4 separate regions of the Homo sapiens genome follow, and regions 2, 3 and 4 are each linked to region 1. The links come from fine-mapping of genetic effects on gene expression. A gene starts in region 1. Each other region holds a variant in brackets. All regions are shown on one strand. Distances are from middle to middle. Region 1 holds the start of GPSM1 (G protein signaling modulator 1). Region 2 overlaps CCDC187 (coiled-coil domain containing 187). Region 3 overlaps GPSM1 (G protein signaling modulator 1). Region 4 overlaps GPSM1 (G protein signaling modulator 1).

Evidence for each region. PIP is the estimated chance that this variant, and not a neighbour inherited with it, causes the effect. A credible set is the group of variants that fine-mapping cannot tell apart.
Region 2: its variant is the best candidate, but not a certain one, in a credible set for the expression of GPSM1 in cerebellum (GTEx, PIP 0.52).
Region 3: its variant is the best candidate, but not a certain one, in a credible set for the expression of GPSM1 in sigmoid colon (GTEx, PIP 0.89).
Region 4: its variant is the best candidate, but not a certain one, in a credible set for the expression of GPSM1 in whole blood (TOPMed, PIP 0.62).

What each region holds. Positions count from the first base shown.
Region 1 is chr9:136,322,792-136,330,008 of GRCh38, reverse strand. GPSM1 (G protein signaling modulator 1) reads right to left here and starts at 2,470. Exons shown (of 14, transcript NM_001145638.3): 1 at 2,246-2,470. The coding sequence starts at 2,313. It overlaps DKFZP434A062 (a long non-coding RNA gene), which reads left to right and starts at 2,686. Exons shown (of 1, transcript NR_026964.3): 1 at 2,686-7,217. RefSeq lists enhancers at 1,250-1,778, 1,779-2,308, 4,838-5,466, 5,467-6,093 and a silencer at 3,342-3,636.
Region 2 is chr9:136,287,899-136,295,115 of GRCh38, reverse strand. It overlaps CCDC187 (coiled-coil domain containing 187), which reads left to right. Exons shown (of 26, transcript NM_001378188.1): 5 at 2,821-2,955; 6 at 3,471-4,630; 7 at 5,063-5,157. Among named protein-coding and RNA genes, the nearest start is that of CCDC187, 13 kb to the left of the region's middle. The variant T/C (reference allele first, on the strand shown) is at 3,542.
Region 3 is chr9:136,353,269-136,360,029 of GRCh38, reverse strand. It overlaps GPSM1 (G protein signaling modulator 1), which reads right to left. Exons shown (of 14, transcript NM_001145638.3): 12 at 4,184-4,340; 13 at 3,480-3,688; 14 at 429-2,016. The coding sequence ends at 1,810. DNLZ (DNL-type zinc finger) reads left to right here. Exons shown (of 3, transcript NM_001080849.3): 3 at 1-547. Among named protein-coding and RNA genes, the nearest start is that of DNLZ, 7.1 kb to the left of the region's middle. The variant G/A (reference allele first, on the strand shown) is at 4,296.
Region 4 is chr9:136,343,815-136,351,031 of GRCh38, reverse strand. GPSM1 (G protein signaling modulator 1) reads right to left here. Exons shown (of 14, transcript NM_001145638.3): 10 at 2,265-2,335; 11 at 1,269-1,445. Among named protein-coding and RNA genes, the nearest start is that of DNLZ, 16 kb to the left of the region's middle. RefSeq lists enhancers at 4,791-5,444, 5,445-6,098, 6,632-7,217. The variant G/A (reference allele first, on the strand shown) is at 3,259.

The sequences.
Region 1 (7,217 bases):
GTCCCCACCGACCCAGCACCCAGGGCCCATCCCCACTGACCCAGAACCCAAGGGCCCGTCCCCACCGACCCAGCACCCAGGGGCCCGTCCCCACCGACCCAGCACCCAGGGCCCCGTCCCCACCGACCCAGCACCCAGGGGCCCGTCCCCACCGACCCAGCACCCAGGGCCCCGTCCCCACCGACCCAGAACCCAGGGGCCCGTCCCCACCGACCCAGCACCCAGGGCCCCTCAGGGTACCCAGTGGGCTCATGGGCACATTCATGGGCCTCGCTGTCAGTGTGTTTTCCAGGCACAGTTCCCCATTTTAAAAGCTGAAACTCCTCTCTCCAGGAAGGAATGTCAGTGTGGGAAGGCAGTAGACGGGGCAGAGGAGACCTTGGGCCAACCTGGAGCCCCATCCACATTGAGGGACCCCAGTACAGCCACGTGAGGAGTGCCCACACGGATTCCGCCCACCTCCAGGGCATCCACATGCCCACCGCCCACGCCAGCAGGTGGGCCGCCCCCAGCACTCGGGTTTCAGGAGACAGGAGACTTTTCCGTGTCTTGCTCTCCAGCCCCAGCATGACAGCAAAGGGCCCTCCCGTCTGGCCCGCAGCTTCCACTGGCCCAGAACACGTCTAGGCATCCATGCTCTGAAGCCAGCTCCGACCAGGAACCGCCTGCCCAAACCGGGCTGTGGCTACACGGTGGGGTGCAGACTCCCGGGGGGACCTCGTCACAGGCCCTGCTGGAGGGCTTGGCGCGCTTCCCCCAAGTCTGGGCCTGACTCCACCCTGGAGCTCAACTGGACTCCCTGCTTAGGGGGATGCAAGGCTGGGTCTGGGGTCTCTCTGAGTGGTCCCCCTGAGCACTGCCCCTGCCAGGGGCTGGCTCCTGCCTGGCGTGTCCCCAGGGGACCCCAGGCTTCTAGCTGTAGCCTGGAGAATGCCCAACTCTATGGTCAGCTGTGCAGGCCTCACCCAAGGCTAAGGTCTTGGACACCCGTCTCTCACAGCTCCACACACACACTCTCTCACAGCTCCACACACTCACACTCAAACTCACTCCAGCCAGGGCTGCTATCCATCCCCCTCACAGCACGGCCGCCCTGGAGCACATGCGGCCCTGCACAGCCGATCAGATCAGCGGAGGAAACCCTTGAAAATCCTTTAGGGCAGGCCCCTGGCAGCAGCTGCCAGCAAAATCACCCTCACGCCCCTCCCCTGCGTGGGGCCCAGGAGCCAGGCTAGGGGCTCAGCGCTCCATCCAGGACGGCACAATGGGGCTGTGTCTGGGACCAAAGCAGAGAGCAGACCGGAGGCAGCAAGGCCTCTGTCCGCCGTGCCGCCACCAGTACCTCATTTCGGGTGCCCCAGGCAGAGGCTTGCTGCTTGGCTGGGGCCAGAGAATCCTTGGGGGCCAGGCTAGGCGCCCCCCGGGATCAGCTGCTGGGACCCCTATCAGGGAGGTCACCAGGTTTTAGGGATGTCCAGAGGACAATAGTGTCCCTCGCTCTGGGGAGCCAGGCCTGCCTCTGACGGCTGCCACCCATTCGCAAGCCCCTGCCTGGACCTCACGCTCGTGTGGCTCTGCCTGAGGCCTGGTACCACCCAGCCTTGCTTGGGGCTCCAGGCACCTGCCCGGCTGGGCCCAGGGCAGCCCCTGGGGGGACATTGGGAGTCACCAGGCAGGCATGCCACCTGGGGCAGGGCCACCCTGTCATCCCCAAAGGCGTGGGGCACAGAGCCCAGTCACTGGGATCACCCAGGAATGTGCCCGGAGAGTAGATGCCTTTTCAGGCAGGTACACACCCACCTGGCTGGCTCCCTTCCAACCCAGCTGGATCCCACTGGGCTCGTGGAGGGCTGGTGAGGGGCAGAGCCCCATCCAGAGCAGCCAGGTCTCTTTGGCCATGATGCCCCTGAGTGCCCCGGGCATGGCAGGGCCAGGCTTGGGAGGGAAGCACCCCACGGTGCCCCTGCCAGGTGCCAGGGGAGTGAGGCTGGAGAAGCTGCCCACCCCGCCTCCAGCCCCCCGGCCCCCCACCCCCTTCCCCTTGGCTTGGGGGAAAGAGGGCTTCAGGGGACGCCCACGCGGGCACACGCCGGGCTGGGCTCGGCCTGGAGGGAGGGGCGCGTCCTCAGCCACGCTGCGCGCCCGCGAGAGCTGCCTTTGTTCCCAACTGCAGCCTCCCCCGCGTCCCGACCCGGCCCGGTCCGGTCCCAGCCCCGGCCCCGGCCCCGGCCCCGGCCCGTCCTACCTGGAGTAGAGGCGCCTGGCGGCCGGGCCCGGGAGCTCGTCGGCCGCGGGCGGGGCCGGGCCCGCCATGGGTCGGGGACGCGGGAGCGGGAGCCGGGAGCGCCCCCCGCGCCGTGGCCGTCCGCCCCCTGCCCGCCCTGCTGTCCTCCCTGCTGTCCGCCCTGCTGTCCGCCTGTCCGTCCGCGCCTCGTTCGCCCGTCCTCCCCCGGGGAGGCGCCGAGGAAGTGATGTGCGCGGGGCGCCGCCGCCCCTCCCGCCGCCGTGGCCGTGATGTCACCGCCGCCCGCGCGGGGAGGGGGCGCGGACCGGGCGGCCACCGCCGCGTGCCTCCCTCTGCGGGGGGCGGGGCGGACGCGGGGGGAGGGGCGCCGTGAGGCGGGCAGTCCCCGGGGAGGGGGGAGGGGGGAGGGGGTGTGGGCCCCAGCCCACCCCACCCCAGGGAATGCAGGGGAGAGGGCCTGGGCCTGGCCTTGCTGCTGGTCCCCTGGGGACTTCTGAGGGCCCGCGGGGGTCCCTGGGTCACAGTGCAGCCACACTGGCCTCTGGGCTCCTTTCATCCACAGGCCGCCTGGTGAGCCCCGCAGCCTCACCCACGTGGGGAGGGGCTGCTGAGGCCTCCTTGCCTTTCTTGGTGGGCGCCCTACGCCTCGGGGGTCCTACCCTCCTCTTCTGTGCAGCCCCAACGTGGCTTTGCCCCCTTCTCCAAACTTCTGCCTTGGGCCATGGGGCGCAGGCCGTGGGGATGCTGTCTGCCTGCTTTAGAGAAACCTGGGGCACCGATGACAAATACAGGCTCTGCTTGGCCTGTGGGACGGTTGGTAAGCCCCCCACCTCTGAGACCCTGGGTGGCCACATTCCCCTCCCAAGCTCCCCCGGAATGGGGATGCAGCCTGCCCCTTCCTTCCTCCTGGGCACTGTGCAGGCTTAGGGAGGATGCAGGTGGCACAGTAGGCTGTGCCCACCCGGGGTCCCGGGACCCCAGCCCCTACCGCCTCCTCCTCCTCCTCTGAATTCTTGGAGCCCTGTGGGCCTATGTGGTGTGACGTGGCTTCCCCTCCACCCACCCTCAGCTCCCGATGGCTTGGGGGGTTCTCCGCAGCCAGCGAGGCCCACAGCCGGCCTCCCCGGGTTCTGTCCTGCCCCCGACAGCATCCTGGGCCTTCCGGTGGTGTCAGGAGACTCCAGGCCCTTGAAAGGCAGCTGCGACCCCGGGTATGACTCGGAGAAGTCCAGGAGCAGGAAATGGGCTGCATTCCTTCGGGGCCCCTCCGTGCACCCCAGCCCCTCCCTGGGAGAGCTGCCCTGAGGTCAGGAAAGTGCCGTCCTGGCAAGACCCTCAGCAGCTGCCGCCCACAGGACAGTCAGCGTTTTCAAGCATGGGAAGGAAAATAAACACGAGGTTAAAAAGGGGTCTGTTGGCCCCGGGCTGGTTTGTTTTTCCTGTGTAAGGGAGGCAACGGGAATGAGAACCATCTGTGCCCTGAGCGCAGCGCAAGCTGCCTGCTGGGCCCACGTGCCCTCCCCCAAAGACCACAGAAGCCAGGCAGAGCCTTGCTCCCTTCCAGCCGGGGCCGTGGCTGCTGGCCGGCAGGGACAGTGGTGTTGGCTGGGGCACCACCCTCCTTTGCCACAGCCCTGGGCCTGGCTGCGGGCAGAGAACAGGCCTTCGATTGAAGCTCCAACCTTCCGGGCCACCTCCTTTGGGCTTCGGGCACCTGAGCCAGCATCCCATTGTAAGGGCAGGGGCTGCTGGGGGCCCTGCCTGTGCCAGGCCTCAGCTCAGCCCTCTTTCCCCAGGCGCTGCTGCCATCAGGAGGCCCACAGAGGGTCCACACCAACACTGTGAGCCCCTTGTGGGTCCCCTGGGTTAGTGGTGGGAGGCTGGTGAAGAGAAGTGGGGACAAAAGACATTGCACAAATGGTGGAGGGAGGGAGAGATTTGCAGCCTCGTAGCTGTCATTGCTGGGGGAGCTTCTCCTGGTCTCCTTCCTTGATGCAGAGAGCTGGGAGCTTGTGTCCCTGGGCCGGGAGAGCCCCAACATTATATCAGAACTTGTGGGGAAACCTGCACCCCCGAGGGCTCTGGCTTTGTTAGGCCGAGCTGGGCTATGAGGCTGTGTGACCTGGCACAAGTTGCTTTCCCTCTCTGAGCCTCGGTTCTGTCACCTGAGGGCTGCCCGTCCCGCAAGGTGTGGAGGGTCACTGAGGCGTGGGGTTTCTGCGGTGCTTGTCCATGTGCCTGGCACACAGTGGGGTTTGTGCAGTGCTTGTCCATGTGCCTAGTGGCTCACAGTGGGGTTTGTGCGGTGCTTGTCCGTGTGCCTGGCACACGGTGGGGTTTGTGTGGTGCGTGTCCATGTGCCTGGCACACAGCGAGAGCTGCTGGGGTCATGTTGCTCTCACACTCGTGCCTGCCCCTGCTGGGCCCCTGCAGTGGGTCCTGGCTGGATTGGGGGTACATCCCCACCACACTGCACAGAGGGGCGTCTCCTCCTATCCAGGGACCTGATTCTCCTGTCGAGAAAACCTATGAAGGGGACCCAGAGATGGAGTGTGACAAGGCCAGGTGACAGGCCTGACATGTGGTGTCCACATCCAGAAGGGAGACCCTGGAGGGATGACCCTCCACTGCCACCCCCTCCCATCAGGCTCTGGACACCCTCGAGCCTCCCACCATCCACCTTACCAGATCCCCCCAAGAGTCCGGGAAGCTCACTCCCCCAGGGGACCAGGAGCACAGCCCCTTCCATTCCTAACGGGCCTGACTCCCAAAGGGGGGTGAGGAAAGAAAAAGCCATTTCACATCGACTTATTCTTCTGGCCCCAGGCAGCAGCACAGGGCGCAGGGTGGGCCTCTGCAGACACGATGGCTCCGTGGTCAGGGAGGGGCCACCTCCCATGTGCCTGGGGAGGGGCCCTCCCAAGCCCCTGCGTGGCAGCGCCAAGGGGTTGGAGTCAGCCCCAGCACACACAGGGCCCTGCTCACTGGTGGCCATTGTCAGCGCCACCTCCACCTTCAGGAGCCTGCCACGTGCCTGCCCTCGGTCACTTAGCCCTCCCTGGCACGCACCACTTTGTCCACACACCCTGTGTGTAAGTGGTGACAGCGGTGACAGCTCAGGCGTCACCTGATCGGGCCGACTCTAAGCCTTAGTCCTTCCTTGTCCTGTTGCGCCGGACAAGCCTCTGGGAGGCGACGGTGGGACAGCCACAGGGTTCTTGGCTCAGCCCCCAGGAGTGGGGAGCTGGGGCTCTGGACGGAGGTGGGCACTCGAGGCTGGTGTGGCCTCCTGGGTGAGGGCCAGGCTCGGGAGAGGCAGCCAGGCGGCCCCAAGCCACCCCAGGAACAAAGCACCAGCACACACCTCCACTGGTTTGCTAGGGCTGGGAGAAGTTGGAGTGTTTCTGTGGTGGCTGTGGCAGCCCACGGCCCCAAGACCCTGGCTTCCTTCTGCTCCCACCTTTTCAGGCCCCTTCCCCAACAAGCAGCTACTGTAGGACCCAGTGGGGGCTAGGGCACCAGCAGCTGCCATTACCCATGCTGGGTCCTGATGGTTCCTGACCAGCCTCAACCGTGGATTCCAAGCTGGGGAAGGAAGAAGCAGGCCGGGAGTGGGGAGGGAGACAGTGAAGGACACCCAAACACACACACACACACACACACACACACACACACACACACACACACAGAAGGAACAGTTTCAGCTTTGTTTCCCAGTAATCTCACTTAAAAAGAACACTTGGGTTTACCATGTTCACATAATCTCGTTGCTCTGAGAATGAACTTATTCTTCCTCCCAGCTTGGCCATGTGTTCCTCCCCATTGCCCAAGTCCCCTCATGACATCATCTCCCACTGCCATGTCCTTTCCTTGGGGACCTCCAAGTCCCTGGAGTTTGGGGACTGCAGGGTGGGTGGAGGGGCCCACAAGCTCTGCAGGGAGCCAGAAGGAAACGGTCTGTCCCACCCCAGGGCTGAGCACCTCGCTGGGAGATGATACCCACACCTGGAAATAGCTCAAGGGCCGCGTGAGGCCGCACGACACCCACGCCAGTATGAGACACCTGGCCATGCGGCATTCCTGGCCGACTGCTGGCAGCTGCAGACTTTGTCAGCCAGGTGATGTCCCCGGGATCTCTGGGCAGGCAGGGCACACAGGAGGCAGCTCACGCTCACTCATCATGGCGAGGCAGGTCGTGTGGAACTTCCTTGGTCTTCCTCATCTGCGCCCCACCCAGCCTGGCAGATGGTGATGCTGTGAGTGCCAGGGAAACACACACACGCACACACACACACATGCACACATGTACAGACAGGTGCACATGCCTGGGAGAGTCTGTGCTGCTCAGCTTCCGAGGGCAGCTCCCCAGGTCTCCCCCCGGGTCTGCGGTGGGAGGCGAGTCTTTTAACATCAGCTCAAACCAAACAGGATGAGGAGGGCAAATCGGCCGTCCCCAGTAAATCCTAGGGAGTCCCTCCAAGGCAAACAGAAAATGCACCCCAGCTTTCGCTTTTAGGGGTTTGAGTTGCGAGTTTCCAGTCTGCGGAGTGCGATGGCCGGGTGTAAGTCTGAAACCCTCTGGGGGAGAGAAGCCGCACAGTGCAGGGGTACACATCCCAGATCCACTCCCCAGCTGTGAGGCCCAGGCGCATTCCGCGTTCCCCGCCCATCTCCACCTCCGAGGGTTGCGGGAGGCTGAGCAGTTAGAACCGTGGCTGGCATACGGAGGGCACTCGGTAAACGTGGCTGTGCTGAGCTGTGGGCCTCGAAGGAGTCTCGCGGGGCTGCTGTACCAATGACCTTGCACTGGGTGGCCTAAAACAACATGTGTTTCCTCACAGCTCGGGGGACCAGAGCTCAGAATCTGGGGGTCACAGAGGAGGGTCCATGCTCATCCAGGTCAGCTCTAGGGGCTGCAGGCCACCCCTAATCTAGGATGGTCTTATGTTGAGGTCCTTAATTACATCCACAA
Region 2 (7,217 bases), 35 kb after region 1:
ACACCACCCTGAGCCAGTGGAATCCTGACCCTCTTCCAGGCCTAACTCCTGCAATGATCGTGACTGCCCTTTCATTCTTGTGGCCCTATGGGAGGTGCTGTGAGATAGGCACCCCATTTTACAGATGGGGAAACTGAGGCATGGATAAGTGAAACACTTGCCTGAGGCCCATGGCTGGTGAGTGGCAGAGCCAGACTTAAACCCAGGTCTGAGAATCCTGAGACCACGCCCTAAACCTTCCTCTACCTTGGGGTCCTGTCCTAGACAGTGTATGGCCTTAAGGGGTCCTGCCCTAAAGTGGGTGTGGGGCATGGCCTGGGGTCCTGTCCTGGAGAGGCCGTGGCCATGGGAAGCCTGTCCTTGGGGACGTGGCTTTGGGAGGGCATGGCCTGGTGGGTGCAACCATGTAGCCCATTCACCTTCCTGGAGAGGTAGCTTCAGGCCTGTGGCTGATGGCCAGGGGTCAGGGCAGTGTGAGGAGGGTGCCGTGTCTGGGGGGTGCTAGGGAAGTCCCTGACTCAGTCCGGGAGCCTGCCCCTGGGTGCTCAGCTCTCTGGATGGTCCCTGCCCAAGGCACTCTCATTTGGCAGAAAGTCCCCCTTCATGGGGGCCAGGGCCAGCCCTGGCTGAGACTCCACAGTGGTCTTGACCCCAGGCCACGGGGTGGAGCTGCCCTGGGCTGGGCCTAAGGAAGGGGCATAGGGGCCAGGGACCCTTGGCATGTGTGGTGTTGGCCCTGCAGAGCCAGGTGGAATAAGCAGTGTGTGTGAGTGAATGTGTGTGTGAGAGCACGTGAGGGCATGTGTATATGAGCGTGTGAGAGTGAGAGCACATGTGAGGGCGTGTGTATATGAGCGCGTGAGAGTGTGAGACCACGTGAGGGCGTGTGTATATGAGCGTGTGAGTGTGTGTGAGAGCACATGTGAGGGCGTGTGTATATGAGCGTGTGAGTGAATGTGTGTGTGAGAGCATGTGAGGGCGTGTGTATGAGTGTGAGAGTGTGTGAGTGTGAGCACTTGAGGGCGTGTGTATATGAGCGTGTGAGTGTGTGAGAGCACATGTGAGGGCGTGTGTATATGAGTGTGTGTGTGAGAGCATGTGAGGGCGTGTGTATATGAGTGTGAGTGTGTGTGTGAGAGCATGTGAGGGCATGTGTATATGAGCATGTGTGTGTGGGAGAGCACGAGGGAGTGTGTATATGAGTGTATGAGTGTGTGTGGTTGTGTGTGAGCGTGTGAGTCAGAGAGCATATGAGACTGAATGTGTGTGAGAACGAGTGTGTGGTAGTGTGAGTGTGAGAGCATGTGTGTCTGTGTGAAAGTGTGTGAGGATGAGACCGTGTGTGAGCATGTCAGTGTGTACAAGTGTGTGTGCATGTGTGAATGCATGAGTGAGCATGTGAAAGCATGTGACTGAGCATGTGTGACAGCACGTGCGAGGGCATGCGTGTGACAGAGTGTGAGCATGAGTGTGAGCATGCGAGTGCCTGTCAGCATTGGCGTGCATATGTGTGAGCCTGGGAGCACGTGAGGGAGTTGTGGGCACGTGTGTGACAGTGTGTGAGCATGTCAGTGTGAGTGTGTAAGCGTGTATGTGAGCATGTGTGTTTGTGAGTGTGTGAGCATGTGTTTGTGAGTGTGTGAGCATGTGAGTGTGAGTGTGAGCATGTGTGAGTGTGTGAGCATGTGAGAGTATGTGAGCATGTGAGTGTTTGTGAGTGTGTGAGCATGTGAGTGTGAGTGTGTGAGCATGTGAATGTGTGTGAGCATGTGAGTGTGAGTGTGTAAGCATGTGAGTGTGAGTGTGTGAACATGTGTTTGTGAGTGTGTGAGCATGTTAGTGTGAAAGCATGAGTGAGTGTGTAAGCATGTGAGTGTGAGCGTGTGAGTGTGAGTGTGTGAGCATGTGTTTGTGAGTGTGTGAGCATGTGAGTGTGTGTGAGCATGTGAGTGTGTGAGCATGTGTTTGTGAGTGTGTGAGCATGTGAGTGTTTGTGAGTGTGTGAGCAATGTGAGTGTTTGTGAGTGTGTGAGCATGTGAGCCCAGGGCTGGCCCTACCTCCGGCCTTTGCCAGGGCCCTCGCAGCTGGGCCCACGGGGCTGGTGGGGCTGGTGTTGGCATCGGTGGCCGTGAGCTGGGCTGTGAAGTGCCACCTGGATGAGCGCCACTCACTGCATGATGCCATTTGCGTGCGAAGGCTCGTTTGTACTCGGGACGTGGGGCCGTTTGCTGCAGCGATGCCCGGGACTCCCTGCCCTGCCAGCCGGGGAGCCTTCACCGCTGCCCACCCGTGTGACTGCTGGCTCTGCTGGCTTAAAAGCAGGTTAATCTCCTGTGGCTCGGCACACGTGGCCAGCGGTGACAGGACCTCCCGTGCTGCGCGGAGCCCGATGTGCAGCACGGAGCGGAGGGTGGGGCTGCTGGCTCGCGGTTGTCACTCCAGCTGCTGCTGCTGCTCGGCGTTTCTTTCACATGTGCTGCGTGCCCGGCCTGTGCTGAGAGCTTCACCGGCAGAGCTGTGGGGCAGGTCCTGTTGTCCACGATTTCCTGAAGAGGACTCTGAGGGTCAGGGAGGAGGAGGACTCTGAGGGTCAGGGAAGCCACCTGCCCATGGCCGCCCTGAGACTCAGCCTTGCCCTGTGCAGGCTGAGGGTCCCGCTCTGCCCAACAGGGGCCTGGACATGAGGGATATCCTCCCGGTGCCTTCTGGGAGTGTTGAAGTGGCCTCCTGGCGCTTGCAGAGCCACCAACCTCCCCGTCCGGGCCAGTGCCCAGAGGGCCATGGGGCGCCCGGCTGTGTGTATGTTTTCTCTGTTTAAGATTCGGAGCTGGTTGGTGTTTACGCCTGGAGAAAGGGACAAGCTCTGGTGAGGTCGCTGCTTGGGCCCCCTCCCGTCCTCCGCAGGCACCATAGCAAGGATCCCTCGAGAGACCCGGCTCTCACCGTGGACTTAGGTACCTGTGCCTCTGCCATGGGCTCTGTCCTGCTCTGCTGTGGCATCTGGGGGCGGGCACAGAGAAGGAGACACCCAGGCTCCAGGCCGCCTGGAAGGAAGAGGTGTTGGCGCCTCTCACAGCAGCCTGCAAACACCCTCCAAACCTGCCACCCATTCAACTGGGGACTTTGGGCAATAAGTGTTTTCAAAGCCTGAGAAAAGGGTTTCTGGCCCTGGGAGGCTCCATCGCCAGTTCCCGGGGCAGGCATGCTGCCGAGGCTCTCTCCTGGCAGGAAGGCAGGATGGGAGCCGGCAGGGGCTCCCCAGACACAGGCACACCTGTGCTTGGCTACTGTGTGCAGAGCGGTGGCTCATCACACAGGCGTGGTGCCCACCCTCAGAGGGCTTCTGCCCAGCAGGGGCCCGAGGGCCTCCTCACCGCCCCCACACTCCTTGCCTCCAGCCCGGATGGAGGAGCTGGCTTTGCTCTCCCCTCCGCTCCCCTCCTCACCCCTGACACTCCTGTCTTTGCAGGAGACAGCGAGAAAGTCATAGCTGCCAAGTGCTCACCGGTTTGTGCCCAGTTGCCCGATGCCACCTCCGCC[T/C]ACAGTGACCAGCAGGTGTCTGGGAACACACCCAGCCTGGCTTCCTTCGACCAGCCAGCGACCATACAGACGGCCATGGCCATCCTACAAGACCTGCGCCAGCAAATCCAGGCTGGGCTGGAGCTGGCCCAGGCCCGCAAGGGAGGGCAAGAGCTCGGGCCATCAAAGCGGAGGCTGCAGGACGTGGCAGGGAGGGGCTGCTGCAGGGACCCCAATGCCCAGAGCTCCTTCTCTAAGAGTCCCTGGGCCATGACAGAGAGGAAGCATTCCTCTTTAGAGAGGGCTAGGAGTGTCCACACCTGGGAGCCCTGGAGCTCCTCCACTGCACGGGAGTCCTGTCCGCAGAGGGCCTGGGGGGCCCAAGGACAGGACCGCTCCTTCCAGAGGCCGGAGAGTCCCCATGAGAGGTTGGGCCACTTCTCCCAGAGGCCCTGGAGTGCACTGGCTGGGCAGGCCTGCAGTCCGCAGAGGGCCTGGGGGGCCCAAAGACAGGGCCCCTCCTCCCAGAGGCCTGGGAGCCCCCCTGAAAAGCGGAGCCCCTTCCCCCAGCAGCCCTGGAGTGCTGTAGCCACACAGCCCTGTCCACGGAGGGCCTGGACTGCCTGTGAAACCTGGGAGGACCCTGGCCCCAGACTGCGGAACCCTCTGGAAAGGCCCAGTCCTCCAGCCCAGCGGCCCTGGAGCAGCTCCGGCGTGCAGAGGGCCGGCCCCCAGGGCAAGGGCAGAGGCATCGGCTCCCCCGTCTCGGCTGCCAAGCATGCCCTGCCAAGGCCCACCGGGAGCTTCCCTCAGAACCCACTTGGGAAGGAGAAGGACACGCTGCGGCCCTGCCCCAGGTCCCGGGGGCTCCTGGGACCCTCGCACAGCTCTGAGTCCTTGCGGGAGTTCATGCGCCAGAAGGCGCAGGCCCGGCGGCGGCAGGCCCTGGAGGAGAAGGCCTCGGCCCTGCGCACACGGGAGCTGAGGAGCCGGAGGCTGCAGGAGGTCTACCGGCAGCAGAGGGAGGCCGTCCTCGGCAGGGCGGTCCCCGTGGTCTCCCGGACCACCCCTGGCATCGTGACCTTTGTCCCCAGTTCTGCACAGTCCGGGGTACATGCTGGGGTTGGGTTGGGGGGACTCGGCTCAGCCATGGGCCAGAGGCTTAGGCGCTCAGGTGCTGCCTCCAGCCCCCTGGTGTCCTCCAGGGAGTGGCCGGGCGAGGGCTGCAGCTGGGGGCTGGGGACTTCGTGGCGTCGCTGCCACTGCCTGTAGAAAGCCAGAGCTTCTGTGGATGCCTCCCTGGGGGAGGCCCTGGTGAGGTGCAGGGTCAGACCTGGGCGCCTTTGCCCCTGGGTGCAACGGGGCTCCGGAGGGACCCCCTTGCCTCTCACAGCCCCTGAAGTGGGACCCCGATTCCTGCAAGACTCTGGGGAAGCAGCCTGAGACCCCCAAGGGAGGTCAAGGCCTAGCTCTGAGGCTGAGAGAACGGGGCGTGTGGTCTTCCCGAGCGGGGGGCTCTGATGGCATTGCCCTCTACTTTAGGGCCTGGAAGCCTCCGGGAGCCTGGAGTCCCCAGTGCTGGAATGGAGCAAAGTGACCTCTGGCATGGTGCTGGGGGGCCAGGAAGCCCCAGGCAGGTGGGTGTGAAAGTGTGGGTGCTGCACATGCCGGGCGGGGCCTTGGGGGGGGCCAAGAACAGTTCTGGGTGCGTTCTGGGGCCCTCGTGACATTGCCTCATGACCGAGAGGCTCCTCAGGTGGGGCAGGCTCTGCCCTGCCCGCCCACAGTGCCACCTGCCTGCTTGGAGGAGGCGGTCACCACTGTGCTTGTTCTCATGGAGGCAAGAGTCGCATCAAACTTAAATCCACCACGTTAAAGTGCACGTTCCGTGGCATTGAGCACCTTCCCCGTGTGCTGTGCAACCACCACTTCTACTGAGTTCCGGAACATTCCATCTCCCCATGAGCCCCCACCCTCAGGAGGCAGCCCCTCCTGCAGCCCTTGTGGGGGAGCCATGGGGGTCTCCTTTCTGCCTCGACGGATTTGCCTATTCTTTTTTTTTTTTTTTTTTTTTTTTGAGATGGAGTTTTGCTCTGTTGCCCAGGCTGGAGCGCAATGGCACGATCTTGGCTCACCGCAACCTCCACCTCCCAGGTTCAAGTGATTCTCCTGCCTCAGCCTCCTGAGTAGCTGGGATTATAGGCACCTGCCACAACGCCCGGCTAATTTTTTGTATTTTTAGTAGAGACGGGGCTTCACCACATTGGCCAGGCTAGTCTCGAACTCCCAACCTCAGGTGATCCACCTGCTTTGGCCTCCCAAAGTGCTGGGATTATAGGAGTGAGTCACCGCGCCCCGCCCGGATTTGCCTATTCTTGACATTTTATCTAAATGGGATCACCAAGTACGGGTCTGGCTTCTCTCACCGAGGATAACGTTTTCCAGGCTCATTCAAGATAACGTTTTCCAGGCTCATTCATGTTGCAGCTTGAGTCAGAACTTCATTGAGTCTGTGGCTGAATAATGCCCGGCTGTGGGCAGGTGACCTTTTCTTCACAACCTCGTGGCCAACGGATGCCCGGGCTCCACCTGCCGCTGCCGTGAATGGGTGCTTGCACCTGCTTTGGCCCTTGAGCTGTTTCTCTTGGGTGCACACCTGAGAGTGAATTGCATGGGCACGTGCACCTCTGTGTGCAGCTTTCTCGGGAACTTGCACCCTGTTCTCCACAGCAGCCGCCCTGGTTCCCATCCCCCGGCCGGCGTGAGGGTCCCCATCTCCCCACTTCCTCACAGCGCTTACTTTTAGGTTCTTTTCTGTGTTTCTGTTTTGCTTTGACTACTGTGTATTTTAATTTCTGGAGGCCCCTCCCCCTGGGGCATCGTGAATCACACACATGGGGTCTGAAGACCTCCCCCAACTTTGCTTGGGGGAGTTGCGCCTGGGTCTCACTACAGTTTCCAGCCTGGCTCTCGCCCAGGAAGGGCTGTGGAAGGCCCCAGCTTCAGGCCAGTGGCAAACACTCTCTGGCCTGGCCTCACGCTAGGCACCTGTGAGGAGCTCACGGCCAGGCCTCCTGCATGCCCTGGGTTCCAGCGGGCAGGGGGAGCTGGCTCAGAGGCCAGGGAGGGGCTCCCACCCACCAGAGCGTCCCACCCTGGACTCCCTCAGGGCTGCCCCTGGCGTATCTTTGGCAGCTGGTATTGGGGGCTTCAGGCTGGCCCCTGGGAGCTCAGCTCCCACCCCTCTCTGCAGGACCCGACCCCTCCCTCTGGCTCCTTTTGGCTCCATTTTGTCTTGAAGGCACTCGTTTTGGGATTCTTTCCCGGGAGTCTGGGTCACAGGGCAGCCCAGGGGCTGCATCTGTCAATGTCCAGTAAGACAAGGACGCAGGTCCTGAGTATGCCGCTGGGTGAGCATCCCATGCTGGCCCCGCCATGCCACCCCCTTCCCAAGGGCAGCCCCTCCCCCACTGGCCACCGTCGGGCTCCGTTTGCTTGACAGCCTCCCGAGTAGCTGGGACTCGTCGTCTCGGGCAGCTGCAGGGCCTCATCTCACTTCATCATGTCCTTGTCCTTTTTTTTCCCCACCTAAAAAATTATAGCTGGGCATGGTGGCTCCCACCTGTAATCCCAGCACTTTGGGAGGCTGAGGTGGGAGGATTGCTTGAGGCCAGGAGTTTGAGACCGGCCTGGACAA
Region 3 (6,761 bases), 30 kb before region 1:
CCGTCGGCTCCTCCACTGTGGCTCAGTGTCCAGACCCTGAGCCCAGCCGGATCAGACTCCAGGAAAGGACCTCCCTCCCCCGGGTGCTGGGTGGGCGGCAGCAGGCTGGGTCCTCAGGGGGTCGTGGGGCTGACCTGGGGGCTGCTGCTTCTGGGGGCTGGTCCCGGCCACGTGAGTGTCAGCTCAGAGCATGCTCTGTTTCCCTAGGGGCTGGGAGCGTGAGGAGGTAGGGGTGCAGGAATCAGTGGTGACAGCAGGCAGCCACTTCACCCCTCTGTGCCCCAGCTCCCCCGTGGTTAAATGCAGTGGGAACTCCATCTCTCTGAGGTCTCAGAGGGCCCAGACAGTGGGTATCTGTGGACACTTTGCACAGTGCAGCCTCTTACCGGGTTAGGCCCCCACCCGGGACTAAGCCCATACGGACCACACTCACTTGGCCGACTTTATTTTTCAGGAAAAACAGAAAAACAAATGTACCTCTTGGGTTGGAAAGGACCCATTGACAACATGGCACAGACGTGAGCAATAAATACGCACATACATTCAAGTATGCGGGGGGGCGCTACGTCCTGGAGACCCTGTGTTCGGGCACCTGTCCCTGCTCTCGGGTGCGGCCCTGCCCCTCCAGAAGCAGGTCACCTCACCAGGCCCAGATCTGCCTCTCCATCCTAGCCTGAGAGTGGGGCCTAGAGGCACCCTCCTAGATGGAACTGCCAGCCCTGGGGGCTGTGGGGCCATGGTAGGGCCCTTGGCAGTCTTGGGAGGTGCCAAGGCTGGGTCTGGACAGGAGGAGGCAACCTCAGGCCCCTGGGGCCCATCTCAGGCTCCAGCAGGTCCTGCCAGTCCTAGGATCCCGAACTTGGTGCCCTGTGAGCCCCCTCCCCATGGAGAGAGCAGTGATGTCATCTCCCCCAGCTGGTGGGAGGAGGGGGGTTCTCATATGGGGGGTCTGCAGGGTTGAGCTGAGTGAAGCCTCCCCAGCTTCCACTGACCACCCCCCCACTTGGGTGAGGGTCACAGAGCCTGGTGCTACCTCCCACCCTGACTGGGCACTGCTCTTGCTGCCAGTAAGCATCCCTAGGACCAGGCCCTGCCCTTTTTCCTGGCTTGGGGTTTTGGAATGTCGAAGTTCATGCCCAGCCATTCCCTCTGCTTTAGAGATAGGCCCGGCTCCTGTCGAGGCCCCTGCAGGGCCCTGGGACTCGGCGGGGGGCACCTCAGGGCTGCCACTGCAGCCTGGTCTGCCATGCGTGGTCTGGGGGGCCTTCTGTGGTTGCTGACCTCTGGCCGGGGAGTGGGGAGACAGGCTTGGAGGGAGCCCTGCCCCAGGACGAAGCTGGAGGGGTGGAGCATGCCTGTCACACGGCCATCCCAAGACCAGCTCTGGGGGGACAGAACATGGCCCTGTCCTTGGTGGCCCCAAGAGGCGGCTCAGAGACACCTTTGGGGAGGGTGGGGGAGACAGCAGGGTTTCACATTTGGCAGGGCAGGGCAGAACGGGAAGGGCTTGGGGGAGAGGATGCGGGAGTCTGACAGCACCAGGTCGGGGCCGACATGCCGAAGGCCCCGTCCGGCCTGCGGCAGGGGCAGAAGGGAGGAAGCTGAGGGCCATGGGGGCCAGCCCGGGATGGAAGCACGCCCTCCCACCACGGGCAGCTTGGCCTGAGCCTGTCGCCCTGGGTCGGGGAGGCCGTGGGGCTGCATGCCCAGTGCCTGTCCTCGGCAATGGCCTCGGGAGGACGTGGCTGTGACTGTGAGACCGGCGTCCAGGAGTGGGGGCAGGGTGGGCCTGGCGGTGGGCACAGGGCCTTAGCTCGCACCAGGCTGGCACTGCTGCTGGGGCTCGGGCGGGCCGCCTGCCCCCTGCTCCGGGCCCCCGGCGAGGTCCACCCGCTGCTCGTCCATGCGCTTAGCCTGCACCCTCTGAATGAGGCTGAAGAAGTCCTCGTCCGGCATGGTAGGGCCCCGGGGCAGTACGTCAGGTGGCGGGCAGCGCTGGTCATCGATCCTGGAGGACTGGGTGGACACAGTGCAGTTGGCGGCCTCACCCCCCCAGCCCCAGTGGTCCGGGGCTGGTCAGCAGCGGTGGTTCCAGAGGCCAGCGTGCACTGTTCACGGGCTTCCCCCTGTCCACCCAGGAAATTGGTTCTGGGGCCTGCCTCGCTCTGGGGTCTTGTGCTGGGAGCCCGGGCCCTGAGCGCAGTCTTCTGGTGGCCCCGCCACCAACCCGCAGGAGCCCAGGGCAGGCCCGCCCAGGAAAAGCAGGTCCAGCGATTCCCACTGGGCATGGGTGTGCCAGGCCCAGGAGACAGTGGCTAGGGCGGCGTTGGATGCCTGCTCCCCACATCTGCTGATCCCCAGGGACGGGCATGCGTGGCCGTCCCTCTGCCCAGCCCTGGAAACCAGCACAGCCTGGGACTGACCCTGGCAGGCCTGAGGTCTCAGCTTCCAGAGCCCGAAGTGTGGCGCCCCCCAGGGCTTCCCCTTGTGTCAGGTGGCTGACCCCGTGGGCCTCGCCTGCTCCAGTGTGCAGGCCAGGGGGCCAAGGGGTTGTCTGGGCTTCTCTGAAGCGCCTGGAGCAGGAGGGACGGGAGCTGGCGCAGGCATGCGTGTGGATGGGGGACTCTGGGCCTCTTGGGTGGGGCTGGTTTGGAGGTGGCTGGTCGGACGCCTGGCCCCGGGCCGAGGTTTCCTCTCTGCTGTGGGGAGGACGGCAGACCTGGAAACGTGCTGGCTTGGTTCGTGGTGGGCCAAGCGGCCTCCACCCCCAGCCTGTTCCCAAGTCTACGGACCCTGAACCCCTTCCCAGCAATGGCTGCACCCCACAGGGATGGCGAGACCCCCAGAGTTTGAGGTCCTAGTTGGGATAGCAGTTGGCTCAGCAGTCTCCACTCCGGCCACCCTACCTGGCTCACCCCCACACAGATGAGGAGGTCATTCCTGGCGTGGCTGCCAGGCTGGAGCCCCGGCCCTGGCTCTGCCCTCTGGGGCTGGACCCTCCGCCCATGCCGTCCACTGTGTGGTCCCTGGATGGTCCCTGTTTTTGTCCCACCAGCCAGCTGGCAGCCCTGGATCCCCCTGCCCTCCCCACTCTGGGGGTGCTATCTGGCCCGTGTTTTCCCTGCCGGGTGTGGAGGGCTGGTGGGGAATCCCTGAGGCCATGAGCTCCAGGACCTGTGACCCCCCAGCCCCCACCCCGAGTTCCTGCATGGCAGGGGGGTGGCACAGCCTGGGAGTGTCCTGGGGTTGCCAGGGGGGGTCTCTGGTGTCTCCAGCAGCCCGGGGTTCCCAGGAGTAGGGCTTCAGGCTCAGACACCCCTGGTCATGTGGTGACACTGGCTGAGTCCCCCAGGAGTCCCTCAAACATGACCGGAGATGGCAGAACCAGCGCCCACCTCACCCCTCAGGACACAAGTTGCCTCCACACACGTGGATGGCAAAGGGGCCGCGAGCCACGCCCGCCCAGGGCCGCAGCCCACCTGGTACTTGATGAGCATGTTGAAGAAGTCGTCCCCCGGCTCCTGGGGCTCGCCGTGGCCTCGGAGGTGCCCTGCATTGCTGTGGGTGATTCGCAGCCCCGGCAGGCTGCCCACGCTGGCCCGCTGGTCGTCCAGCCGGCGGCTCTGGGAGCTGGCGATGAGGTCGAAGAATTCCTCGGTCTGGGGCGAGGCCGTCATCGAGGGCTGGGCTGCGGGGGGCCAGAGGGTGAGACCTGGGACCCAGTGCGGGGTCAAGCCCGAGGCTCGGGCTGCGGCCACAGTGAGCTCTGACCTCTGAGCCCAGCCCAGCCCACTGTGCTGCTGGGGCCATGGCTCCTGGGGGAGTCTCCGCTGACCGGCCTAGGCAGCTCTCAGCTGCTCCCCCTGCTGTGGCTCCCACGCCCACCTCAGGGGCTTCCAGGGGGTGACAGGAGGAGACAGGAGGAGAACGCCAGTCCCCCACGCCCTGCCCCCTCCCTGAGACTGCCCCTGCAGCCTGAGTGTGTCCCGGAGGGCGGGCTGATGACACGCTTCCCGGGATGCTGCTCTGTGGGGGCTGCGGAGGGCGCCCTCAGTGACAGGGTGCTCTGCAGCTGGCCTGCTGGTCTGCCCCCGAAAACTCCTCACTGGAAGCAGGACGGGAGCCCTGGTCCTGGCCCCTGCAGACAAGCCCAAGGGAGGGCCCGGCTGAGGGGGGCACTCACCGATCCTGTCCTCCAGGGTGGGGGCGGCCGTGGCCTCGGCAGCCCCGGCCTGGCCATCGTCCAGGGGACAACGCTGGTCGTCCATGCGGCTGCTCTGGAACTTGGTCAACAG[G/A]TCAAAGAAGCACTCCTCGTCCGAAGACGGGGCCCTCGGGATGCTCTGGGGAGGGAGTGGGGTCACCGCAGCCAAAGCTAGCCCCGCAGACCCCCAGACGAGACCGGGGGCTGCTTGCCCAGGCCACACACACTTCTGAGACCCTGGCCAAGATCGGGACTCTAACCTGCCCCCTGTCGGCTACCCCTCCCCCAGAACGTGTCACCCACCCTCGGCACCCGGCTACCCCTCCCCCAGGACGTGTCACCCACCCTCGGCACCCGGCTACCCCTCCCCCAGGACGTGTCACCCACCCTCGGCACCCGGCTACCCCTCCCCCAGGACGTGTCACCCACCCTCGGCACCCGGCTACCCCTCCCCCAGGACGTGTCACCCACCCTCGGCACCCGGCTACCCCTCCCCCAGGACGTGTCACCCACCCTCGGCACCCGGCTACCCCTCCCCCAGGACGTGTCACCCACCCTCGGCACCCGGCTACCCCTCCCCCAGGACGTGTCACCCACCCTCGGCACCCGGCTACCCCTCCCCCAGGACGTGTCACCCACCCTCGGCACCCGGCTACCCCTCCCCCAGGACGTGTCACCCACCCTCAGCACCCGGCTACCCCTACCCCAGGACGTGTCACCACCCTCGGCACCCGGCTACCCCTCTCCCAGGATGTGTCATCCACCCTCGGCACCCGGCTACCCCTCCCCCAGGACGTGTCACTCACCCTCGGCACCCGCCGACTGCCCCGGACTTCTCCCCTCTCATGGGTGCTACCCCAGTCCAGGCCTCTGTCCGTCACCTGCCCTGGGCCAGCCTCCCCAGCCTTGGCCTGGAACACTTCCCAGACATCCCGGGAAGCCTCCCGTGCCTCCTGTCCCTGTGCCCACCACACCCTGTGTCAGCCCTGCCATGAGCTCCCTGTGTCCATGCCCTACACAGCCCTCACCGGTGTCTGCTGTGTGAATGAACTCGAAGGAATGAACCCCGCCCTGGGCCTCAGTCCACACACCCAAACAAGGGAGGCTGGAGGGCGTGGTCTCCTGTGGCCCCCCAAGGGGCCCAGCTGAAGCAGGTCCACCCCGTGACCCAGCCTCACAGGGCCTGGTCCGGGCCCCAGGGCTGAAGGGTGTTTGTGATGGTTCCAAGCCCCGTCCACCTCCCGACCGGCGCTGGCAGCCCCTGCCCGGCCCCAGCCTGTCCATCTCACGGCTGGTGGCCTCTTCCAGGTCTGCAAATGCTGGGCTCACAGCTGAACGAGTTAACAAGAGACGCAATGTTGGTGGAGATGGCACCTCCCGGGTCCCCGATGCTGCCTGGAATTCCCAATACCTGACCCCCACAGCCCAGGAGACGGACAGCTGTCTGACAGACAACTGGAATTCCCGACACCTGACCCCCACAGCCCAGGACTAGGGCTCCCGTCCTGCTTCCAGTTTTCTGCTGGACTCGGCCCAGGGCACAGGAGAGTGGGGCCTAGAGACATGTGTGACCTACCCAAGGTCATGCTGGAGCAAAAAAGAGCTGGGATTCAGACCCTTGAGCTGAGCCGAGGGCCCTGTGGACAGCCCTGTTTTAGGAGAGACCCCACCTGGCTCTGGCCCCTGGAGTCAGTCCCCAGCTGTCACGGAAGCCTGAGGTACCTCCTGTCCCTGAGGCAGACCTGAGGAGGGAGAGTTCTAGCACCCCCTTCTCCCCGCAGGGCTCTCCTCCTGCAGCCTGGCTCAGGCCTAAGGCAACACCCCCACTCCCCCGGATTCCCCAGCCAGGAGGGAGGGGAGAATTGGCCCAGTCTGTGGGGAGGGCCACATCCACTTGGGCCAGGGCTCTGGGAGCTGCAGGTCCAGGCAGAGGGTGGCACTGGGGTTGCCAGCCTGAGTGCCAGTTGGGGCCACACAGGTACCTCCCCAGGAGGATGTGGCCTCCTGGTCTAAAAGGAACTGGCTCCTGGGCTATGATGACCTAGGGCACAGCCGCGGGGGGCCTCTGCCTCTGGCCCAATCTGGACTCCCCCAGGTGACCCGGGGCCCAGGTGGACTGAGCAAGGTCCCTCCTGGGAAAGGCAGGACCCGTCAGGGGCCATGTCCCAGGCCCCATGGCAGAGCCCCTCTCAGGGTCCTATGTCGGGCAGCCCTCCCCTTCCCTGAGGCTGGGGCCAGCTGTTGAGGGGCTGATGCCTCCCTCACATGGGGGCAGGGGCCCACGACTGCAGGTGCAAAACCGTGGCTCAGTGCCTGGTACGGGGAAAGGCTCTGGATAGTTTGGGGCTCCTGGAGCCCCTCAGAAGCAGGACCCTGGGCCCCAAGGCCACCTTCCCCTGCATTTATGTCCCAGTAGAACATATCCAGTGGGACTCGGGGTTCCGCCTCCCTGCTCTAACCTCTCCCTTGCCCCAAGCCCTGGCTCCCTCCTTCCCGGAGGCCTCAGAGTCCCTCCTGCAGTCTGACTCTAGTCTCTCTTGCTTTGGCACAAGCCCAGTTT
Region 4 (7,217 bases), 21 kb before region 1:
GGCTGACCTCCGAACCCGGACTCGGCCCATCGGTGCCCCTGAACACCAACCAGCTCTCCCGTGGCTGGGGTGGCCCTGGCACAGCTGACACCTGCCAGGCACAGGCCCGGCCTGTCACCTGTCCCCCCACCAACCCCGAGTCTGACCACCAGTCTGTCTGTCCCCCGTCCGTCCACCCATACACTTGGCAGTCACTGCAACTGCCCCACCCCTCCCGCCACCTCTGTGTGCCACAGCAACGCGGGGGGCTCCTGGCTAGCCCTGAGGACCCGGGTGGCGCCCAGGCTGCGCTGCTGCTGCTTGCTGGGCTGTGACCCTCTGCTCCACTCGTGACCTTGAGCCCAGGTGGGGTAGGGCAGGGTGGGGCCTCCCAGCCCCTGACCAGGAGGAACCCTGAGTGGACCTAGCCCCTTGCTGTCCCCTCACCAGGGGCTCTGCAGCCATGCACAGGCCACCCAGCTGCATCCCCTCCATGACCCCACTCACCATCGGTCCTGCCCCGGCCCCTGCACCCACAAGGAGAGGCCCCAGTACCTTGGCCCAGCTGGAGCTGCAGGTGCTTCCACACCAGGGCCTGACCATGGGTGTGGCTTAGGGGCTTCCCACCCACCCCTTGGGTGCCCCTCAGGCCCCTCTGCTCAGGGACCCCCGCCAGGTGTCAGAGATCCCAGGATTCCCCCAGGGACTGTGTTGGCCTCGTCCACCCCTCCAGGGCCCTGGTAGGATACACAGGCTTGACCTCACTGGCCAGAGCCTCCAAGAGCCACCTCAGGAAGGGGCACCCCATCAGGGGATCTGTGCAGCCCGGCTCTCACAGTGAAGGCAGCCAGTTCCTTTCAGGGACACGCTCCTGTGACTAGCGGATGGGTCTGGAGGGTCCCAACAAAGGAGGGTGGGGGCTGGAGTCAGAGAGAGAGGCCACCTGAAGGCTGGGAAGAGCCAGCCCCCAACTGGTGAACAAGATGGAAACTGAGGCCCAAAGAGAGGCGGGGCGTTCCATGCAGAAGAGCCCAGCCTAGAGTCCCCAGGAGGCTCCTCGGTGGCCGGGGCCTCTGAGGCCAGGTGCGACCACAATGCTAAACACTGAGCCCTGCCCAGAGCCCCCACCGGGGTCCCAGGACAGCACTGCACCAGGTGCACCGGGGAGGGACCCCTGCCTCCCCGGAGTGCCCGGGCCTGACCTGGCCCCGTTGGCTGGCAGTGGAGTTGGGGCGCAGTTGCCAAGCTCTCCTCCCTCTCGGCCTGGATCTGCCGTCAAAGACGCCTACCGTGCGTGGCACGTGCACCCGGACGTCGGCGCTGTCCAGCGGGGAGTGGCTGCCCTCCCGGGGCCTCCTCTCAGCGTCCGGGCCTTCCTGGTACTTCCTGCTCCTCACGGGGAGGGGTAGCGAGTCCCTGCTGGGCCCCCGCCAGTCCCCTGAATGGTGGCTGTCTCCATTCTGCTCCTGGGGAGGGGTAAGGCTGTGCGTGGCCTGGGCAATTGTGAACCAATGTCCCCATCCCAGGACCCTGAAGGGAAGGCCAGGCCGCCTCCATTTCATGGATGCACGCCGTAGGTGCCCAGTACCCAGAGAGGAGGAGAGGACTGGGGCTGTGGGCCCTTGGCTGGGGCCGGGAGAGGCAGGGTGGGGTGTTTGAGGGCCAGTGGCCCCCGCAAATGTCAGCCGGCTTATACCAGCAATGACAGTGACTGTGGGCGTCCTTGGGTCTCGTCCCCACAGCAGAACCCTGACGGCCATCCACAACTGAACACAGGCCACACCAGAGGAACCAGAGGCTCAGAGAGATCAGGCTGCTGGCCCAGGCCACACAGCACCCACTGCCGACAGGCACAGGGCCAGCCCAGGGCCCTACGCCAGGCAGCCCCCGAATCTGTCTGTGTGGGTCTGCTGAACCCCAGCCAGTGTCTGCACCTGCAGCAGCTGTGCCCACTTTGGGTCAGAGTCCGAGAGGGCAGGGAGCAGGCAGGAGTGGGTGCCCCTGTCTGTGGGCTCCCGAGGGTGTGGTGGCATAGCAGCTGGGTGGAGTATGGGGGCCTGAAATGTGTGAGGACCATGCCTCGCCTGGGGCACAGCTGGCCAGACGCTGAGGGACATGGGTGAGCAGGTGGCAGATGGGCCATGCAGGGCATCAGGCCGAGGAGGGCACATTTATCTCCCAGCAGACAGGGGCTGAGGTGGGTGGCGGTGGCTCTGCCTCATTAACCCCGCTGCCCATGCTCTGGCAGCGGCTGTGCTGACATCGGTCCCGTGTCCCTGGCTCACCCGCTCCAGGGGGAGTCTCAGCAGGTCCCAGGTCTCCGCGCTCAGCCTCTGCGTCCTCTTGGGTCTGGCCCCTGAAGACAGAGGGACCCGGTCAGCCCAGCACCACCCTGGCACCTCGCATTGGGTGGGCCAGGCCAGAGTCTCTGGGGGGCCAAGGACCAGCCCGGCCATGGCTTTCTGACAGCCAGCCCCCCTTGTGGAGGCGAGCGCCATGTCTGAGTGTCCTCTGCGTCTCCCCGACTGTACTGTCAGAGTCAAAGGGGACAGGTGTCGAGACAGAGCGCGTCCTGGCTGGGGCCAGGTGGGGTCTGGCTTTGGCTCCCTGTGCTGGAAGGGCCCGGCTCTGGACAGGCCTCTCCCCTGCCGCACACAGGGCCTCCCCCGTCAGTCCTGCTGTTCCCTCTGCCTGGATCACCCTTCCTGTGGCCCCTGGTCACCTCTGTGAGGCCACCCAATCCCCCCTCCTGAGGGTGCATCATGCTGTGCCCCGGAGGCAGGTGGGGCGGGCCTGTGGGTCCACTCCCAGCTCACTGCGGGCAGCCCAGGCCAGGGTCGGGGACGCAAAGGCCTCAGATGAATCCCCCAGACCAGCTCTGCCGTGGGACCTTCCCCGGGCTCCTGTCCATCCCTCCTGGCCCGGGGCTCACCCTACTGGCCGTGTCTCCACCCAAGGGACCCCCATCCCCTCTAGCCGCAGTGGGGTGGTGGGGCACAGCTGCCTGACCCAACACTGGCCAGCTGCAGACTCAGCGGAGCCACCAGTGCCTGTCCCGGGCCCCTGGGAAGCCCCACAGCCAGGCCCACCTTCAAGCCTCAGTCCCAACACGGCCCTGGCAGAGACGGGTGTCACTCAGCCCTGTCCCAACACAGCCCTGGCAGAGACGGGTGTCGCTCAGCCCTGCGGGGCCCGAAAGGATTTGGGAGTTTGGGAGAGTGGGCCCTACCTCAGCCCAGCCGCTCCCTGAGCACTCTCAGGAGCCTGTATCCAGGGCAC[G/A]ACAGACCTGGCAGATCAGAAATCAGTTGGCGAACGGAAAAAATGGGATGGAATCCGGGAAGTGGGGAATGTCCTCAACCAGGCAGGAAGCCCTGTGGGAAGGGCCCGATGCTGTGGCTGAGAGCCAGGGTCTGCGGGCGCTTCCCTGAGGAGGCGGCGGGACGGACAGGGGCACAGCCACTGTGGAAAGGGCAGCAGAACGTTCTAGGCAGAGGGGACGACGGCGGAACGAGGCTGACACTGAGGACCCTGTCTCTGCTGTCCCTACGCCTGGCACATCTCCAGGGAGACTCTCGCAGCTGGGAGGACCCTCATCCTCCTCCCTGCTCACCCACAGCTCCCACCCCCCTATGCCCACCCTTACCCAGTCTTCCTGGGAACCAAGCGTCCCTCCACCCGTGGACACACTGGACACGGGCTGTGCCCAGGAGCCCTGCGCACACCCAGTGTGAGTCCGAGGGCGGGGCCAGAACCAGCCCTGGCATCAGTGGGCACTCTGAGAATCCAGTCCTGGCACCTCCAGACCATCAGACTTGGCCCCATTACTACGCCTCGGAGCTCAGCGCCCTCCTCATCAGACTGCGCCGGCATGGATGGGCCGGGCCGGGCAGTTCCCCTCCGCACTCATCCCCCCGAGAGGCTCAGCTCCTAAAGTGAAGCTGCTTGGTGGCTGCCTGCATCAGGCAGATGTCGGGGGGCAGGCCCAGACACCCCCTTACCCTGTCCAGGCCCCACTGCATCAGGGAGCACAGCCACCAGGGTTGGGGCACTCGTCAAAGTTAGCAGCATGAATGGCCAGGCAGGGTGCCGGGGCCTCAGGTGCACCCGGACCCCACCGTTAGCCCTGGGTTCTGGGCCCTGCCGGGGAACACAACATCCACAGAGGGAGAGAGCCGGCTCAGGCGGGCAGTCACTCGGTCATTTCAGGCACTGGGCCCCACACACAGCCCCTCCCAGCCTCACCTGCACAGCTGTCACTCAGCCAACATCCCCCTGACCCCAGCCTCAGCAGGGCCCTGATTTAAATATGAGCCTGGCCCCGACCATGAGGGAGGGAGGAAATGGGCCCGAGTGTCAGGGTCTCTCAGGGTCTCCCTTACAGGCCCATGCTGCGGATGAGAACAGGCCTGGGTCTTGCTGGGGGGCTGCTGTCTGAGCATTGTGCCACCAAATGGAGTCCAAGCCTCCACCCCCAACTGGGAAGGGGGTCCTGCTGCCACCTAGTGAATGGCAGTGATGAGGATGCACTGGGGGCTTCAGACGGCTAAGAAGGCACCTGGTGGACAGCAAGGTGCTACCTATGGGGCAGAGGGGAGCCCCTGGATCGGCCTGGCTGCTAGCAGCCCCTTCCTGAGTCTGTCCATGTGACCCGTTTAAATGGTGAGCTCCTAAACGCAGCTGGGGGGAAGGGGACAGGAGCAGAGGGAGCTGAGGACTTGGGGGCCCAGGCTGGTCTTCCGCCTCCAGCCCGCTGGCCCCAGACCAGCCCACGGCGAATGCCTACAGCTTCATGAGAGCTGGGCAGGGACCGGGAACTGGCTGAGTGTGGGCTGTGCGCTTCCCTGGCCTGGCCTCTGGGCTCCGAGGACACACCCTAAGCTCCTGCTCTCCAGGGGCCTGGGATGGAAACCTGTGCGGCCAGAGGCACACGTGGGGCCCATCAGGGGCCTGAGCAGGACACTGGGACCTGGGGCCGTCCACTGCTCCTCCCACTCCCAACACAAACGCCCGGGGCAGGGCTCCCATCGCCACCCTGTGGCCACAGTGGTCAGCGGGATCAGGGTTAGCTCCGGCACATTCAGGATCCGGCCAGGCACTGAGGTGGAGCCGCCCCAGCCTCGGGTGGTGCAGCTTGAAGGGACAGAACGGGGCTGGGGTCGACGGCCTGTTCTCTGAAGGGCCACCAGCTGCCCACCCCCACCCAGATGAGCAAGGTAGCTCTGAGGACAGCTGCTGACCCCACACAGTTCGGGGCCTGCTCCCCACACCATGGAAATGACAGAGGAGCACGTCTGTGCTGGGGCGGGCCCTTCACTTACCACACCCAGCGAGAGCCCCGCTCCGTCTCCCGGTGTGCACTGCCTGAGGGCCTGGCTCTCCCTCTGCCGCCCCCAGTGCCATGGGGGCCTAAGTTGGTTTCCCCACCGCATCCTCCGGGTCCTGGGCCCGGCACAGCTGCTTCTGCCAGGCCTGGCCCTCCACCAGGACACCGCATGGATGGGCCCTGGCTGCAGCAGCGGCTGAAATGCTCTTCTGAGACACAGCCTGCGTCTGGCCCCAGGGCGGGCGCCCTCATGGCCAGGCACGGACGGTGGGCGGAAGGCCCGCTGCGCCTGGCTCAATGCACCCTCTGTCTGCAGAGTCGGCTGAGGCGTTGAGTGTGAGTCCAGCGCCCTTGGCTGAGCTGCCCAGACAGGCCCGGCCCACTGGCTTGGCTTCCTGTCTCTCCCGCCTGCGAGGGCAACGTTTGGAAACTTCTCCCAGCACCGCCCCATGGCCACCCGACGCTGACCGTCACACTGTCATCATCATTTCTGTCCTCACCCAGCTCCAGACGTTTATGTGCAATGGCCAACTCAAGCCCATCGAGCATCTTGGTGCCCCCTGTGCCTGCCGGACCCCTCAGGGCAGCACCCGCCCCGCCGGCTTGGCTCAGACCTCAGCAACCCCGATTTTCAGCTGCCCACGGTTCCTTCACGCCCACCTCTGGTCTGAAATCCAGTCTGTCCCCGCCTCACTGCAGATCCAGAGTCCCACCCCTCCTCACCTCCCTGGAGCCGGATCACCTGCCCCTCACCTGCCTGCTGCCCCAGCCTTGCCCCTAAGTCCCCTCTCCATGCAAGGACCATGGGGTTGGTAAGGGCTGGCCTAGGCCTTGCCCCTTCTCTGCTGGGTCCTGAGGGCCCCGCCCCATTGGGGAGGGGGTCTCACACAAGGGCCCACGAGGCCCTCCCTTCTTCGGCCAAGGCCCTCGCCTTGCTCCGTCAGCTCCAGACAGTCTCCCTGTCCCTTCACCTACCAGGCTGGCCCCTGCCTCAGGCCCTTTGCACAGGCTGTTATCTCTGCCCAGACTGCTGTTCCTCCGTCTAAGCTTGCGGCTCACTTCTCTCTGACTTCCAGTCTTTGCTGGAGCATCATGATCAAAGCCCTAACTCCCCATGGGATGGTGTTAGGAGGTCCTGAGGTTTACATGAGGTCATGAGAATGGAGCCCCATAATGACAAGTGGCCTTAAGAGAAGCCACCAGTGTTCTCAAGCTCCCCCTTCTTCCTCGCTGTCTCTGCTAGGTGAGGACACAACAAGAAAGCGCCGTCTGCCAGCCCGGAAGAGGCTCTCGCCAGCACCCGAGCACACAGCACCCAAACCCTGGCCTTCTGGCCTCCAGAGCCGTGAGGAGTAAACGTCTGCTGTTGCTGCCCCGGCCTGCGGTGCTTTGTGAGGGCAGTCGGAATGGACCATGATGGTCATCTCCCAAAGGTGCTGCAGCCTGCTTCCCCTGTTCCTGTCCGCGCCTCCCCTGCTCCTGTCTGCGCCCCACCCCGCTTCTGTCCGCGCCCCCACCCCGCTCCTGTCCGCGCCTCCCCCCGCTCCTGTCCGCGCCTCCCCCCGATCCTGTCCGCACCTCCCCCGTTCCTGTCCGCACCTCCCTGTTGGGCTTTTCTTTCTCCCAAAGCTCATCCCATGTGGCTCACTCCTGGGCTCCCCGTTCCTCACCTATCAGCTGCTGGACGCGGCTCAGCGGTCTTGGTGCCAGTGAGGGCCCCAGCAGTGCCTGGCACACGGCAGGAGCCTGGTGACCAAGCAGCAGGCATTTACTGTGTATCTGCTGCGTGCGGGACCCTGTGTGCCATTTCCCACACACTGTCCCCTCTGGGCCCTCTTAGGCGCACGGACAGAGGGTGCATCCTCCATCCCGGCGGCTGCCCAAGGGCCACTGGGCTGCTGGAACAGGCGGATGG